2 linked regions of the Homo sapiens genome follow. The protein of the gene in region 1 binds, or shares a complex with, the protein of each later gene. Each region holds a gene or a part of one and is shown in the gene's direction. Other genes may lie near its edges. The genes, in order: SMARCAL1 and RPA2.

What was found.
Region 2: the proteins of SMARCAL1 (region 1) and RPA2 are in contact, whole or in part, in a crystal structure (PDB 4MQV), measured with the Homo sapiens proteins. Residues at the interface, in NP_001120679.1 of Homo sapiens: Leu5, Gln9, Lys12, Ile13, Asn16, Arg17, Ala20, Leu21, Arg23, Arg24, Lys27; in NP_002937.1 of Homo sapiens: Pro222, Glu223, Ser250, Asn251, Glu252, Gly253, His254, Ile255, Tyr256, Ser257, Thr258, Val259, Asp260, Ser266, Thr267.

The regions. Positions count from the first base shown.
Region 1 is NC_000002.12:216,415,403-216,422,676, forward strand, and holds part of SMARCAL1 (SWI/SNF-related matrix-associated actin-dependent regulator of chromatin subfamily A-like protein 1), read left to right. Parts: coding exon 1-113; intron 114-854; coding exon 855-905; intron 906-4,896; coding exon 4,897-5,130; intron 5,131-7,274. UniProt on the Homo sapiens protein: ATP-dependent annealing helicase that binds selectively to fork DNA relative to ssDNA or dsDNA and catalyzes the rewinding of the stably unwound DNA. Rewinds single-stranded DNA bubbles that are stably bound by replication protein A (RPA).
Region 2 is NC_000001.11:27,897,419-27,904,692, reverse strand, and holds part of RPA2 (replication protein A 32 kDa subunit), read left to right. Parts: intron 1-6,985; coding exon 6,986-7,060; intron 7,061-7,274. UniProt on the Homo sapiens protein: As part of the heterotrimeric replication protein A complex (RPA/RP-A), binds and stabilizes single-stranded DNA intermediates that form during DNA replication or upon DNA stress.

The DNA.
Region 1 (7,274 bases):
AGTGAACTCTCAGAAGGGAAAGTGCGTAAGGAACGGCGATCGTTTCCAGGTGTTGATTGGGTACAATGCGGAACTCATTGCAGTGTTTAAGACCCTGCCCAGCAAGAATTATGGTAATGTCTTCATTTTTCAGCTGTTTTTTTTTTTTTTTCTTATTTTTGGAGTCTCTTTTAATCTAACAGTTTCTCATAAATATTAAGAGAGTGCATTGGCACATGCTGTCCATCCAGTTGTTAAAAATTTTTCAATTTTAGCTTGTTTCCCTTCATAATAGTCATTCCCTTAAACAGCTGCCAAACTTGATGGTTGTCACGTGGCCATCTGGAGAACAGTTGAATGTTACTGAGAAGACGCTTCCTCTGCCAGGTGCTTTATATGCATTGTAGCACTTAAGCTGAACAGCAGTTTTTTTGAAATAAGTAGATGTTATTTTAGTTTTTAAGGTGATGGAACTGGCCCAGCAAGATTAAGTGACAGGCCCAGTTTCATTGGTCTGGAAAGGCAGCGTCAGGATGTGACTAGCTCAATTACAGGCCAGAGCCATTACTCCTCATACTGCTTTGCCTGACCACACTACGACCTGGAGAACTTGGATTCTAGTCCTAACTCTGCCCTCAGTCCTCTTAGGTGAAGTTCATAACTTCCCAGGGCCTGAGTTGGATTCCACTACATGGAATAAAAGAATTATCTATATTTACTATTTGTCCTCTACAGAGATTTTTATAGATCAGTGGGGGCTTGCTGGTCAGCTGTTTTGAACTTGGCGTCCTTCATTCATTCATTTAGAAGACAAGCTTGTGTTGAGTGCCTAAGTACAAATTGTCAACAGTCATCAGTCCTCTGTTTTGTTTCAGATCCTGACACCAAGACGTGGAACTTCAGCATGAATGACTATAGTGCCCTGAGTAAGTAGACACATGGTTGTCTCATGGAGGGTGGCACTGGTGCTGAAAATCTTTAGAGTATCACATGTAGTCCAGCTTATGGAGTGCATGGCTTTACAGGTGGTGAAAGCTTTCAGGGCACCCCCCCCAACACTCCTTCCCACTCTGTCTAGCCTAATGAGGCAGCTCTGTGGGTGAAGGCCGTTAGTAGTATTAACAAAAGCTAGCATTAAATGATGCTTGCTTTGCATTAGGCTATTCTAAGCCCCTTATGCTAACTTTTATTCCTTATAATGACTTTTTTACAGATGGGGAAACTGAGGCCCAGGGACGATGAGTCAGTAACACAGGGTCACATAGCCAATAAGTTGTACAACTGGGATTCAAACCCTGACAGTCTGACTTCAGACTACACGTTCCCACCAGACTATGCTGGCCCCAGCAGTGACAGGCAGCTCAGGCAGCCTGCCAGCCCCTGCTCCCAGGAAGGTAACAGTTCAGCAAACAGCACAGATCCTCAGAGTACTCTCTGTGCAGCTAACTACTCAAAAATGCAAGGAGGGGGCATTGGCCAGGCAAGTTCCAGCTAATGCAGTGTCTGGTCATAGTCAGCACCTGGTTACGTCCCTCTGTCTTCTGAGAAAACTGTCATACACTAAAGTTTTTGTCACTTGATCCTGGTACATGGAGCTTGCACACCTGTGTCAAAGCGTCAGCCCTGTGTGTTTTCATCTTCCATTTATTTTACTCTTCTCCCCCAGCTGCCATTTCTACACCGTCTCTTCCTCCCCCTAGCTTAAGAAAGGAAAAGATAAGGATGTATGCTTAGGTCACTTTGCAGATTTGGGGTATGAGGTAGGATTATCTGGAGGCACCAGTACAGTTTCTGGGAAAGGTGGTTTGGGCCAGTGATGGGACAGCTCCCTGCAGAATTTCCTGGTTTTCTCCTTGGCCTCCAATTCTTGAAATGTGTACATTAGGCGATATCTTTCTTTGGTAGCTGCTAGTGTTGTTAGTTTGCGAGGGCTGCCGTGACAAAGTACCACTGACTGGGTGGCTTAAACAATACAAATTTATTTTTTACAGTCCTGGAGGCTGGAAGCCTGAGATTGGTAGGGTTGGTTTCTTCAGAGGCCTCTCTCCATGCCCTGCAGGTGGCTGTCTTCTCTCTGTGTCCTTGTTTGGATTTTCCTTTGTGTGTGCAAATCCCTAGGGTCTCTCCCTTTTCTTAGAAGAACACCAGTCATTGGATTATCGCCCACCTTGGTGACCTCATTTAACTTATTAACCTCTTTAAAGGCCCTATCTCCATATACAATCACATTCTGAGGTCCTGGGCTGTGTGTTTAACATGAATTTTGGAGGGACACAATTCAACCCATAACGCTGCTGCTGCTAGCTCCGTCTAGTGAGGGCTCATTTTTTAATCGATTTATTTGGTGTTGGAACGGGGAGACCCAAGGCTCTGGATAAAGATTGCAGATTTTGACACCTGGTATTCTCATTGCTGGTGATCTTAAACCAGTGGTTTCCCCTGTTGCGGTTGTTTTGTCTTTTTACTCTTGTTCTGACCACGGTGCATGGTGACTTAGATGACTTCTGCTTTTGCAGATTCATTTAGGTTTTTTGTGTGATATCGTTACTTTTTTTTTGAGACAGAGTCTCACTCTGTCGCCCAGGCTGGAGTGCAGTGGTGCGATCTTGGCTCCCTGCAACCTCTGGCTTCCGGGTTCAAGTGATTCTCCTGCCTCAGCCTCCTGAGTAGCTGGGATTTCAGGCGTGTACCATGCCTGGCTAATTTTTATATTTTTAGTAGAGATGGGGCTTCCTCCATGTTGGCCAGGCTGGTCTTGAACCCCTGACCTCAGGTGATCTACCTGCCTCAGCCTCTAAAACTGTTGGGATTATAGATGTGAGACACTGTGCCCGACTATCATTGCTTTGTGTAATGCTCCACATGTTTTGAAAACCATGTTTATTGGATACAAAATTCTCCATATATACTTCTCAATGAAGCTCATAGAAGAGAAAAAAAATTCTCCATATAGCTTTCAGATGAATTTTTCTAATTGTTTGGCTCCTCTGCATCTTTACCAATGTGTTACACACTTGAGCTTTTGCCTGCTGAGATAAACCTTGAAATTCCTTGCCATAATTATGGATTTGTGAATTTCTCCTTGTATTTCTAAGTTTCAGATAGGTTCATGATTGTGTCTCATGATTGGCTTTTTATTGGTATAACATATAAAATTGTCTCTGTGTCAGTCTTTCTGTCATTTTGCTTTAGGTATATCTCTGGATTTGGCTTCATTAACCCTACCACATACTCACTGTAGAACATATTTTGACGTGTGAAGAAGAAAAACCATCCCCCGTAATCTCCCCACTCAACTAACCATTATTAACATTTTGGTTTCATTCCCTCCAGCCTTTTTTCTATGCGTTAAAATATAAAGTTTTATATATGCATATAATTTGTATTTTGCCCTTTTAATTTAATACTCCAGCATAAAGCATATTTACTTTACTGAATGTTAACAGTTAATTCTAAGTGATGAAAATGTGTCCATTATCATAATGGGCCATTTTGACCTTCAAGAAATGGTTTCGTGTTGTTGAACTACTTTTGTCTTTTCCAGAATTTTTAATACAAAATAAATTTTGATAGCTGTATAACATTCTGTCTTATGAATGTGTCATACATTGCTTAAATTGTTGTTGTTTATTTTTTCCTGCTTGATTTTAATTGGCTGCCAGTTTTTCCAGTTTTAAAGCTGTAGAGGAACACCTTCGTACCTAAGTTTTTGTCTGTATTTTCAACTGGTAGTTGGGATAGATTCCCAGAAGTTGAATCATTATTCTTAGAGCTCTTGCTATAATTGCCAAATTGTTTTCCAGCAGGTTTTATTCCCAACTAGCAATATGGATATCTAATTGTTTCTCATCCTGCAAGTTTGAGAAGTAAAAAAGTATCTTATTTTTCTGATTATTTGTGAAGGTGAACATTTCTTCAAATGTTTCTTAGTCTTTTTCCTCCTGTTTTGAATTGGCTACACTACCCTCTTCTTTTGTGGTCTTAGTACTTTTTTAAAGCATGGGTTCTTTTTATATTTCTTTACTCAGGGTTTTTTTCCTTTCACTCCAGTGTGTGTCTGTTGACAGCTTAGTGTTACACAGCTGAATTTGTTCATTATAAAATGCATCTGTAGTAGATGAAATAATGTTCAGAACTGTGTGTTTGTGACCTGGTGATCCTGGTCCTCACTCCTTTGTTCTCTGAGCAGTAGACAGAGTAGCGACCTAGGAGTGGGCTTAACTGGGTGATTTGTGGTGTGCTGACTTCAGTGGCTTCTCCGACACCGTGCCAGAAATTATCTAATAAGTTTATTCATCCTGGCGAGCTTCCTCTTCCCCTTGTTAATTTCTGAATTTTAAATGTTTTGATGTGAAAAATGTAGGGAGGCCAGGTATGGTGCCTGATGCCTGTAATACCAGCACTTCGGGAGGCTAAGGTGCGTAGATGGTTTGAGCTTAGGGATTTGATACCAGCCTGGGCAACATAGCGAAACCCTGACTCTACAAAAAATACGAAAACTAACCGCATGTGGTGGTGCACGCCTGTAGTCCCAGCTACTGGGGAGTCTGAGGTGGAGGATAACTTGAGCCAGGGAGGTTGAGGCTGCAGTGAGCCATGATCACGGCACTGCACTCCAGCCTAGGTGACAGAGCAAGACCCCGTCTCAAAAAAAAAAAAAAAAAAAGAAAAAAAAAAAAGAAAAACTTACGGAGATGGAAAGTTACATTCAGCAAATATTGAAATTCCCAAAGCCCCAACTAAAAAACACTTTCAAGTCTTCCTAATCTAACAGTGCCTTTTCTTGCCTTCCTGCCAAACCTAGTGCCTCTTGACCATGTCCCTTCCCCACTTTCTCCCTCTTCCCTTGCCTGTATTTCAAAGCCACATCATAGTCCCCTGCTTTATCACTTCTGTTCGATTCTTCTTCTTTGGCAGTGAAAGCAGCCCAGAGCCTCCCCACGGTCAACCTGCAGCCTCTGGAATGGGCCTATGGCAGCAGCGAGTCACCCTCCACCAGCAGTGAGGGACAGGCCGGCCTTCCATCAGCTCCATCCCTTTCATTTGTCAAAGGGCGATGCATGCTCATCTCCAGGGCCTACTTCGAGGCAGACATCAGTTATTCACAGGACCTTATTGCGCTTTTTAAACAGATGGATTCCAGAAGATATGGCAAGTAATTGGTCTTTGTCTGATTCCCAGAATGTGTAGTGGTCTGTGATCTCAACATAGGGTGTTTTTCTCTACCTCGAATATTCAAAAATTACTTTCTTGGGAAAGACTTCCTGTTCTGCTCCTCTTCCTATAGAAAGATGACACGTTAATTGTTCCAGATAGTAAACATACAGTGGTGGCTGTTTTGTCATAAGGCCTCCCAAAGAGAAGACCTCATAATATCCCCCTGGTCAATATCTTCTTGGTAGAAGCAGGTAAATTCCTGCTTCAGCCATTTAAAACCCATCTGTTTTTATTTTGGCCTTTGCAGAGCAGAAAAACAGGTGGTTGCCATAAAAATAAATGCTTTTCCATATGCAAACTTAGTAGTTTTCAAACTTGAGCCTGCAGGGAACTGCCTGCAGGGGTTGTTAAAACGCAGCTAGCTGGGCCCCACTACTGGAGTTTCTGATTCTGGAACTTGAGCATGGAGCCAAACTTTTGCGTTTCTCACAAGTTCCCTGAGCTGGTGCTGCTGCTGGTGATGGTGCCACAGTTTGAAAATGCTGGTGGTTCTGCTCTCGGCCTGCCCATCAGCATCACAGGGCCACTTCAAAAGCACCGATGCCTGGTTCTTACCCAGAGATGTTTATTTTGTCGGAGGTGGGGCTTGGACATTGTCGGGGTGTTTTTTGTTTGTTTTGGTTTTTTTAATCTTCCGATAAGCCTAATTATAAGCCAGTCTTGAAATCTACTGGCCACAACAGAATAGTTTTGCTGTATTTTATTTTATTTATTTTTGAGATGAAGTTTCACTCTGTTGCCCAGGCTGGAGTGCAGTGGCGCAATCTTGGCTCACCGCAACCTCTGCCTCCCGGGTTCAAGTGATTTTCCTGCCTCAGCCTCCCGAGTAGCAGGGACTACAGGCACCTGCCACCACACTGGGCTAATTTTTGTATTTTTAGTAGAAGTAAGGTTTCATCATGTTGGCCAGGCTTGTCTCGAACTTCTTCGCCCACCTTGGCCTCCCAAAATGCTGGGATTAATTACAGGCATGAGCCACCGTGCCTGGCCGTTTTGCTTTAGTTTTTCATGAGGTTCTTCATAAGCTCCCCCTTCAGAATAGGGGAGAAGCAGCTATAGATTCTGGACTCCTGGGTGTCATTCTCAGCTTGGGCCACATTGTTTTTTAAAAACGATGTAGTTTTTATGGATCAGTGTTTCCCCATTCTTGAATTGGTTTAATCTTGTTCTTAATCAAGTAGAACTCAAATACTTAAAACCTCATGCCTTTGAGACCTCACATTCAAGCATTGTCCTGGAAGAAGCCTCTAGAATTGCTTGCTTAACAAGAGCTTTCATCAGGGTTTGGGTTCCGGAGGAGGCTGATGCTGGTTGCTACGTCATCATCCTTAGATGGATGCAGTTTGGACTGATGAGGGCAGACGGGTGAGCAGGGCACAGGGGAGTTGTGCGAGGCCCAGGCAGGTCGTGAGATGAGCTGCTCCACGACAGTCTAGATCCTTTGCCTTTCCTGCCCCCTCAGGTGTTTGGCTTCAGCTTGGGGTGGCCCTTAAAAGGCAACTACGGGCCGGGTGTTGTGGCCTGTAATCCCAGCAGTTTGGGAGGCCAAGGTGGGTGGATCACCTGAGGTCACAGGAGTTCGAGACCAGCCTGGCCAACATGGTGAAACCCTGTCTACTAAAAATACAAAAACTAGCCAGGCGTGGTGGTGCCATCCTGTAATCCCAACTACTCAGGAGGCTGAGGCAGGAGAATCCCTTGAGCCTGGGATGCAGAGGTTGCAGTGAGCCTAGATCGCACCACTGCACTCCAGCCTGGGTGACAATCTCAAAAATAAAAAAGGCAAATACAGTGATATGTGTCTATCACCAGCCTGTGAGATCACACTCCTGACATGGTCTGCATTCTGGGAGTGGGTACCATGAAGGTATGGATACTGATCCTGCTCACACCCAGGTGTCCAAAAACCGTGATTGGTTCCTTTGCCTTAGCTGTTGTTCACATCTTTTCCTGTTTGCTGCTGTGCCACTGTGAGAATCAAGTTGTCAGAAAGGGCCTTCCCCTTCTAGTTCTGCATTTACGATTAGTCTGTCTGCTTTGTTCCTTCCATCAGGTTGTACCTGGACGACCTCGCTTTT
Region 2 (7,274 bases), on another chromosome or scaffold:
GTTGCTCTGGGCAACAGAGCAAGACTGACTCAAAAAAAAAAATGCGGTTCTCCTTCAAAAACCACAAGTTATCTATAGAGAAATAACTTGGTAGTTATGTAATTTTTAAATTTTTTCCTTCTCAGAAAAATAAAGGATAATTCATTCAGCAGTTATTGTTGGAGTACCAATTCTGAACTAGACTGTGCTTGGTTCCAGGTATAAAAAGAATGAGGTAGACACAGTCCCTGCCATCAAGCAGGGAGGTAGATACTATGGATACCTAATACTACTTGTTCATATAAAATGCACTATGCTTGCTTATAAACCATTTAAAAAATCACCTGACATCTCATGTCTCTTAAAGAACTACTATTACGACACATTTTGGAAAATACCCTTTCAGACATCTGTCTCTGCATATATGTACATACAGGTGTCCACATACCTCTTTTACTGTAGAAGGGATAATATGCTATGCAACTGCTAAGTAATTTGCTCTTTTCACTCAAAATTATGTTGTGGAACTGATTTTTTTTTTTTTTTTTGAGATGGAGCTGTGCTCTTGTTGCCCAGGCTGGAGTGCAATGGCGCGATCTCCAGCTCACCACAACCTCCGCCTCCCAGGTTCAAGCAATTCTCCTGCCTCAGCCTCCAGAGTAGCTGGGATTACAGGCATGTGCCACCACACCTGGTTAATTTTGTATTTTTATTAGAGACAGGGTTTCTCTGTATTGGTCAGGGTGGTCTCGAACTCCCAACCTCAGGTGATCCACCTGCCTTGGCCTCCCAAAGTGCTGGGATTATAGGCATGAGCCATTGGCCTTTTTTTTTTTTTTTTTTTTTTTTAAATAGAGACAGGGTCTTGGCTTGCTGCCTAGGCTGGCCTCAAACCTGGGCTCAAGTGATCCTTTGGCCTTAACCTCCCAAGTAGCTGGAACTATAGGCTGATGCCACCGTGCCTGGTGAGGAGCTGATTTTTTTTTTTTTTTTTGAGACTGAGCTTCACTCGTGTTATCCGGGCTGGAGTGCATTGGTGCAATCTTGGCTCGCTGCAACCTCTGCTTCTCGGGTTCAAGCGATTCTCCTGCCTCAGCCTCTCGAGTAGTTGGGACTATAGGCGTGCACCACCACACCCAACTGATTTTTGTATTTTTAGTAGAGACGGGGTTTCAACATGTTGGCCAGGCTGGTCTCGAACTTTTGACCTCAGGTGATCCTGCCTCAGCCTCCCAAAGTGCTGGGATTACAGGCTTGAGCCACCATGGCCCAGCCAAGAACTGATTTTTTAATGTTATCTGTAAAGATTTACATCTATCATTTTAAATGACCACCGATTCCATTATAAGAATACATCATCCCTTACTTAACAGTGGACCCAGTCAGGGAACAACATTTAACTTCTTTTCAGTCGTTTGCTATTATATACAATGCTCCAGTGAGTATCTTTGCATACATTTCTTCATGATTATAAAATAATCGTAAGGCCAGGCGTCGTGGCTCACGCCTGTAATTCCAGCACTTTGGGAGGCCAAGGCAGGTGGATCACCTGATGTCAGGAGTTCAAGACCGGCACCGCCAACATGGTGAAACCCCATCTCTACTAAAAATACAAAATTAGCTGGGCGTGGTGGCACACACCTATAATACCAGCTACTCGGGAGGCTGAGTCAGGAGAATCAGTTGAAGCTGGGAGGCAGAGACTGCAGTGAGCCAAGATCGTGCCATTGCATTCAGCCTGGGCAACAAGAGCAAAACTCCATCTCAAAAAAATAAAATAATCATAAGATGTATTCCTAAAAGTAGGTTTTCTGGGGGGAAATACACATTTGACATTTTTTTAACATCTTAGTTTTTGCATTTTTGTACTGTCTTCTCTAAAGGTACCAGTTTACGCTTCAGTCATGCATGAGAGTGCCCAGTTAGTTTCCATACCCTTAACATTTTTTTTTTTAAGAAATAGGCTGGTCTCAAACTCCTGGGTTTAAGCAATCCTCCCACCTCAGCCTCCCAAAGTGCTGGGATTACAGGTGTGAGCCTCTGTGCCTATCCTCCATACCCTTTATAACAATGGGTTTTTGTCTTAAATTTTTGCCAGTGTGATAGTTGTTTTAAAAAATAGTCTTTTTGACTAGGTGCGGTGGCTCATGCCTGTAATCCCAGGACTTTGGGGAGGCCAAGATGAGTGGATCACCTGAGGTCAGGAGTTTGAGACCAGCCTGGCCAACATGGTATAACCCAGTCTCTACTAAAAATAAAAAAATTAGTCTGGCATGGTGGTGCACGCCTGTAGTCCCAGCTACTCGGGAGGCTGAGGCACAAGACTCGCTTGAACCCAGGAGGCAGAGGTTACAGTAAGCGGAGATCTTCACACCAGTGCACTCCAGCCTGGGCAACAGAGCAAGACTGTCTCAAAAAAAAAAAAAAGTATACGTAAAAATAATAAAAAAAATTAAAAAATTAGCAGGGCATGGTAGCACGTGCCTGTAGTCCCAGCTATTCGGGAGGCTGAGGCAGGAGAATTGCTTGAGCCTGGGAGATGGAGGTTGCAGTGAGTCAAGATTGCGTCACTGCCCTCTAGCCTGGGCATCAGAGCAATATTCCATCTCAGAAAAAAATAGTCTTTTCAGTGAAAATTTTGTCATTTTTTTATGTGTATTTCTTTGGTTTTAGCCATATATATGTATTTTTTTTTTTACTATGTTTAATGTCAATTTGTGGGGTTTTTGTAAATTTTCTCTTTGATTCCCCTTCCCCTAACAGTGTTTTTGTTTGCAAGAACTTGAAAATGATTATAGTGACCTCTTATAATGAGGCCAGGCACAGTGGCTCACACCTGTAACTTTAGCACTTCAGGAGACTTAGGCAGGAAGATCACTTGAGGCCAGAATTTCAAGACCAGCCTGGGCAGCATGGGAAGACCCTATCTCAAAAAGAAATAATTTTGAAAAATAAATTGTGCAGTTTTTTCTAGTTTACCTTTCGGAAGCTTCTACTAGTCCCAAAGTTTGTTTTTTTTGTTTGTTTGTTTTAGTTAAAAAATACTTTATGGTGGCTGGGCGCGGTGGCTCACGTCTATAATCCCAGCACTTTGGGAGGCCGAGGCGGGAGGGTCACCTGAGGTCAGGAGTTCAAGACCAGCCTGGCCAATGTGGTGAAGCCCTGTCTACTAAAAATACAAAAATTAGCCAGGTGTGGTTGTGGGCACCTGTAATGCCAGCTACTTGGGAGGCTGAGGCAGGAGAATCGCTTGAACCCAGGAGGTGGAGGTTGCAGTGAGCTGAGATCGCGCCATTGCACTCCAGCCTGGGCAACAGGAGCGAAACTGTCTCTCAAAAAAAGAAGAAAAAAAAAAACTTTATGGCTAACAAATTGTAATAATCAGTTATCCGAACCCTCAGCAATTCATAATGTTTTTGCTAGTGGACATTCTTGCCTCACTGTTGATGGCTGCTGACTGAGGAGGGTGGTAGTTGGCTGAAGGTTGAGCTGGCTGTGGCAATTTCTTGAAATAAGACAACAAAGTTTGCCTGAGTAACTGAGTCTCCTTTTCACATAAAATTTCTCGATATTATATCATGCTGTTTGATAGCATTTTACTTACAGTATAACTTCTTTCAAAATTGGATTCAATCTCAAACCCTGCTACTGCTTTCTCAACTAAACTTATGGAGTAGTCTAAATCCTTTATTGTCGTTTTAACAATGTTCACAGCATCTTCACTAGGAGGAGATTCCATCTCAAGAAACCAGTTTATTTGCTCATCCATGAGAAGCAACTCCTTTGAGAGGCCCAGGCGGCCAGATAGATCATTTGAGGTCAGGAGTTTGAGACCACCCTGGCCAGCATGGTGAAACCTCGTCTCTACTAAAAATAAAAAATTTAGCTGGGCATGGTGGTACATGCCTGTAATCCTGGCTACTCGGGAGGGTGAGGCAGGAGAATCACTTGAACCTGAGAGATGGAGGTTGCAGTGAGCCAAAATTGTGCCACTGCCCTCCAGCCTGGGTAACAGAGTGAGGCTCAGTCTCAAAAAAAAGGAAGCAACTCCTCATCCACTCAAGTTTTACCATAAAGTTACAGCAATTCAGTTATATCTTTAAGCTCCATTTCTAATTCCAGTTCTCCTGCTATTTCCACCACATCTGCTGTTACTTGCCCCACTGAAGGTGGAGGTAGCAGTGAGCCCAGATTGTGCCATTGCACTCCAGCCTGGGTGACAGAGCGAGACCTTATCTCAAAAAAAAAAAAAAAATCTTAAGCAGCCACCCAATATATACTTCAGATTAAAAAAGAGCTGTTGGCCAGGTGCGGTGGCTCATGCGTGTAATCTCAGCACTTTGGGAGACTGAGGCAGGTGGATCACTTGAGGCCAGGAGTTTGACACCAGCCTGGCCAATAAGGTAAAACCCCGTCTCTACTAAAAATGCAAAAACTAGCCGGGCACAGTGGTGCATGCCTGTAATCCCAGCTACTCAGGAGGCTGAGGCAGGAGAATCACTTGAACCCGGGAGGCACAGGCTGCAGTGAGCCGAGATCCCACCATTGTAATCCGTCCTGGATGATAAAACGAGACCTTATCAAAAAACCAAATAAATAAATCTCAGCTGGGTTCGGTGGCTGACGCCTGTAATCCCAACACTTTGGGAGGCGGAGGCGGGTGGATCACCTGAAGTCAGGAGTTCAAGACTAGCCTGGTCAATGTGGCAAAACCCTGTCTATTAAAAATACAAAAGCCGGGCACCGTGGCTCACGCCTGTAATCCCAGCACTTTGGGAGGCCGAGGCGGGCGGATCACGAGGTCAGGAGATCGAGACCATCCTGGTTAACAGGGTGAAACCTTGTCTCTACTAAAAATACAAAAAATTAGCCGGGCGTGGTGGCGGGCGCCTGTAGTCCCAGCTACTAGGGAGGCTGAGGCAGGAGAATGGTGTGAACCCATAAGGCGGAGCTTGCAGTGAGCTGAGATCCCACCACTGCACTCCAGCCTGGGCGACAGAGCGAGACTCTGTCTCAAAAAAAAAGAAAAAAATTGTTCATATTATTTCTATGGTTTCTTTTATTATAATTAAACCTATGATCTACATGGAATATATTTTGATAAAAGGAGTTGAGGTAGAGATCTTTTCTCAAGTGGATTCAAAATGTTGTATATGGGAATACAATTGTTTTGTTTGTGTGGTTTTTTTTTTTTTTTTTTCTTTTTTTTTTTGAGATAGAGTCCTGCTCTGTTGCCCAGCCTGGAGTGCAGTGGCACAGTCTCTCACTGCAACCTCTGCCTCCTGGGTTCAAGTGATTCTCCTGCCTCAGCCTCCCGAGTAGCTGGGACTACAGGCACCCACCACCACACCTGGCTAATCTTTGCATTTTTAGTAGAGACAGGGTTTCCCTGTTAGCCAGGCTGGTCTCGAACTCCTGACCTCGTGATCCGCCCGCCTCAGCCTCCCAAAGAGCTGGGATTACAGGCGTGAGCCACTGTGCCCACCCTTTTTTTTGTATTATTAACAGAGGCAGGGTTTCACCACGTTGGCCAGGCTGGTCTCGAACTCCTAACCTCAAGTGACTTGCTCGCCTTGGCCTCCCAAAATGCTAGGATTACAGGCATGAGTCACTGCACCTGGCCAGAGTTTTTATTTTTAAGCATATATTTTCTAGTTTTTTGTTTGTTTTTAGAGACGAGGTCTCACTATGTTGCCCAGGCTGGTTTCAAACTCCTGAGCTCGAAGGATCCTCCTGCCTTGTCCTCCTAAAGTGCTAGGATAACAGGTGTGAGTCCATATACCCCGATATATTTTCAATTTTTTTTAAAGTAATACATTTTATGTAGTCAGAAAAGAACTTTAAAAATCAGCTAATGGGCCGGACACGATGGCTCAAGCCTGTAATCCCAGCACTTTGGGAGGCCGCGACGGGTGGATCATGAGGTCAGGAGATCGAGACCATCCTGGCCAACATGGGGAAACCCCGTCTCTACTAAAGATACAAAAAAAATACAAAAAAATTAACCAGGTGTGGTGGCAGGCGCCTATAGTCCCAGCTATTTGGGAGGCTGAGGCAGGAGAATCACTTAAACTTGTGAGGCAGAGGTTGCAATGAGCCGAGATCATGCCGCTCCACTCCAGTCTGGGTGACAGAGCAAGACACTTCGTCTCAAAAAAAAAAAAAAAAATCAGCTAATGTATTTTTCTTATAAATAATGTGTGCATATTCTAGGAAACTGATAAGTATTAAAATCGTTTTTAATTATCTTAGTCAACCATTATAAACAGTTTAGTGTGTATTGTCCCAAATGGGAAATCAGCTTTTTTCCATGTATCATGACTTGTTTTTCCAGGCAGTAAATAGAATTCTATGTTATCATTTGCAACAGTGTGGAGTATCCTATTATATAGAAATGTGTACTTTATGTTGGATATTTAGGTTGTTTTAAAATTTTTAATATTCTATACTATGATAAATCTAAATCTTAATGCATGTTCTTAATTACTTCCTTAAATTCCTAAAAGTAGAATTGCTTTGCCAATAAGTATATCCACCAGAAAATTGTGTGCCTGCCGGGCGTGGTGGCGGGCGCCTGTAATCCCAGCTACTGGGGAAGTTGAGGCAGGAGAATTACTCAAACCCTCCCTTGGGAGGCGGAGGTTGCAGCGAGCCAAGATCGTGCCACTGCACTCCAGCCTGGGTGACAGAGCGAGACTCCCTCTCAAAAAAAGAAAAAAGAAAATTGTGTGCCTAAGAGCTTGAACGAGAGTGTCACAATTGTTTGCTTTTTTATGATGTGCTACAGAACTTTGGAACTGATAATTACCTTTAGAGATATTTTTATTCTAATTCCTGGTTTTACAAAATAAGTTGTAAAAGGCAGGGCAAACTACTTAATGCCATTTTAGGATCCTTTAACTCTTCTACTTCGTAACTTTCTCTTTCTATACATAATATAGAAACGTTAAAGAGGCTTTTACCAGCATCACTAAAACTTTAATGACATGTTTGTATTTTATGTTAGGACACCAGCAGTGAAAACACTGTGGTTCCTCCAGAAACATATGTGAAAGTGGCAGGCCACCTGAGATCTTTTCAGGTAAAGTCAGAATAAAATAACAGTTAAAGTGTTTTTGCATGAAGCAGTTTCTAGATTCATGTCATGGCTTTTGGATAGTTAAAATACTTAAGTCTCCCTGTTTAATGGGAAGTTATTTCTTACTCTCTTCAAAAGGAAATAACTTTTCTTTTTTTTTTTTTTAACCTTAACATGAAATTAACAGAATGGTAAAGAAAGAACAGAATCTCCTTCT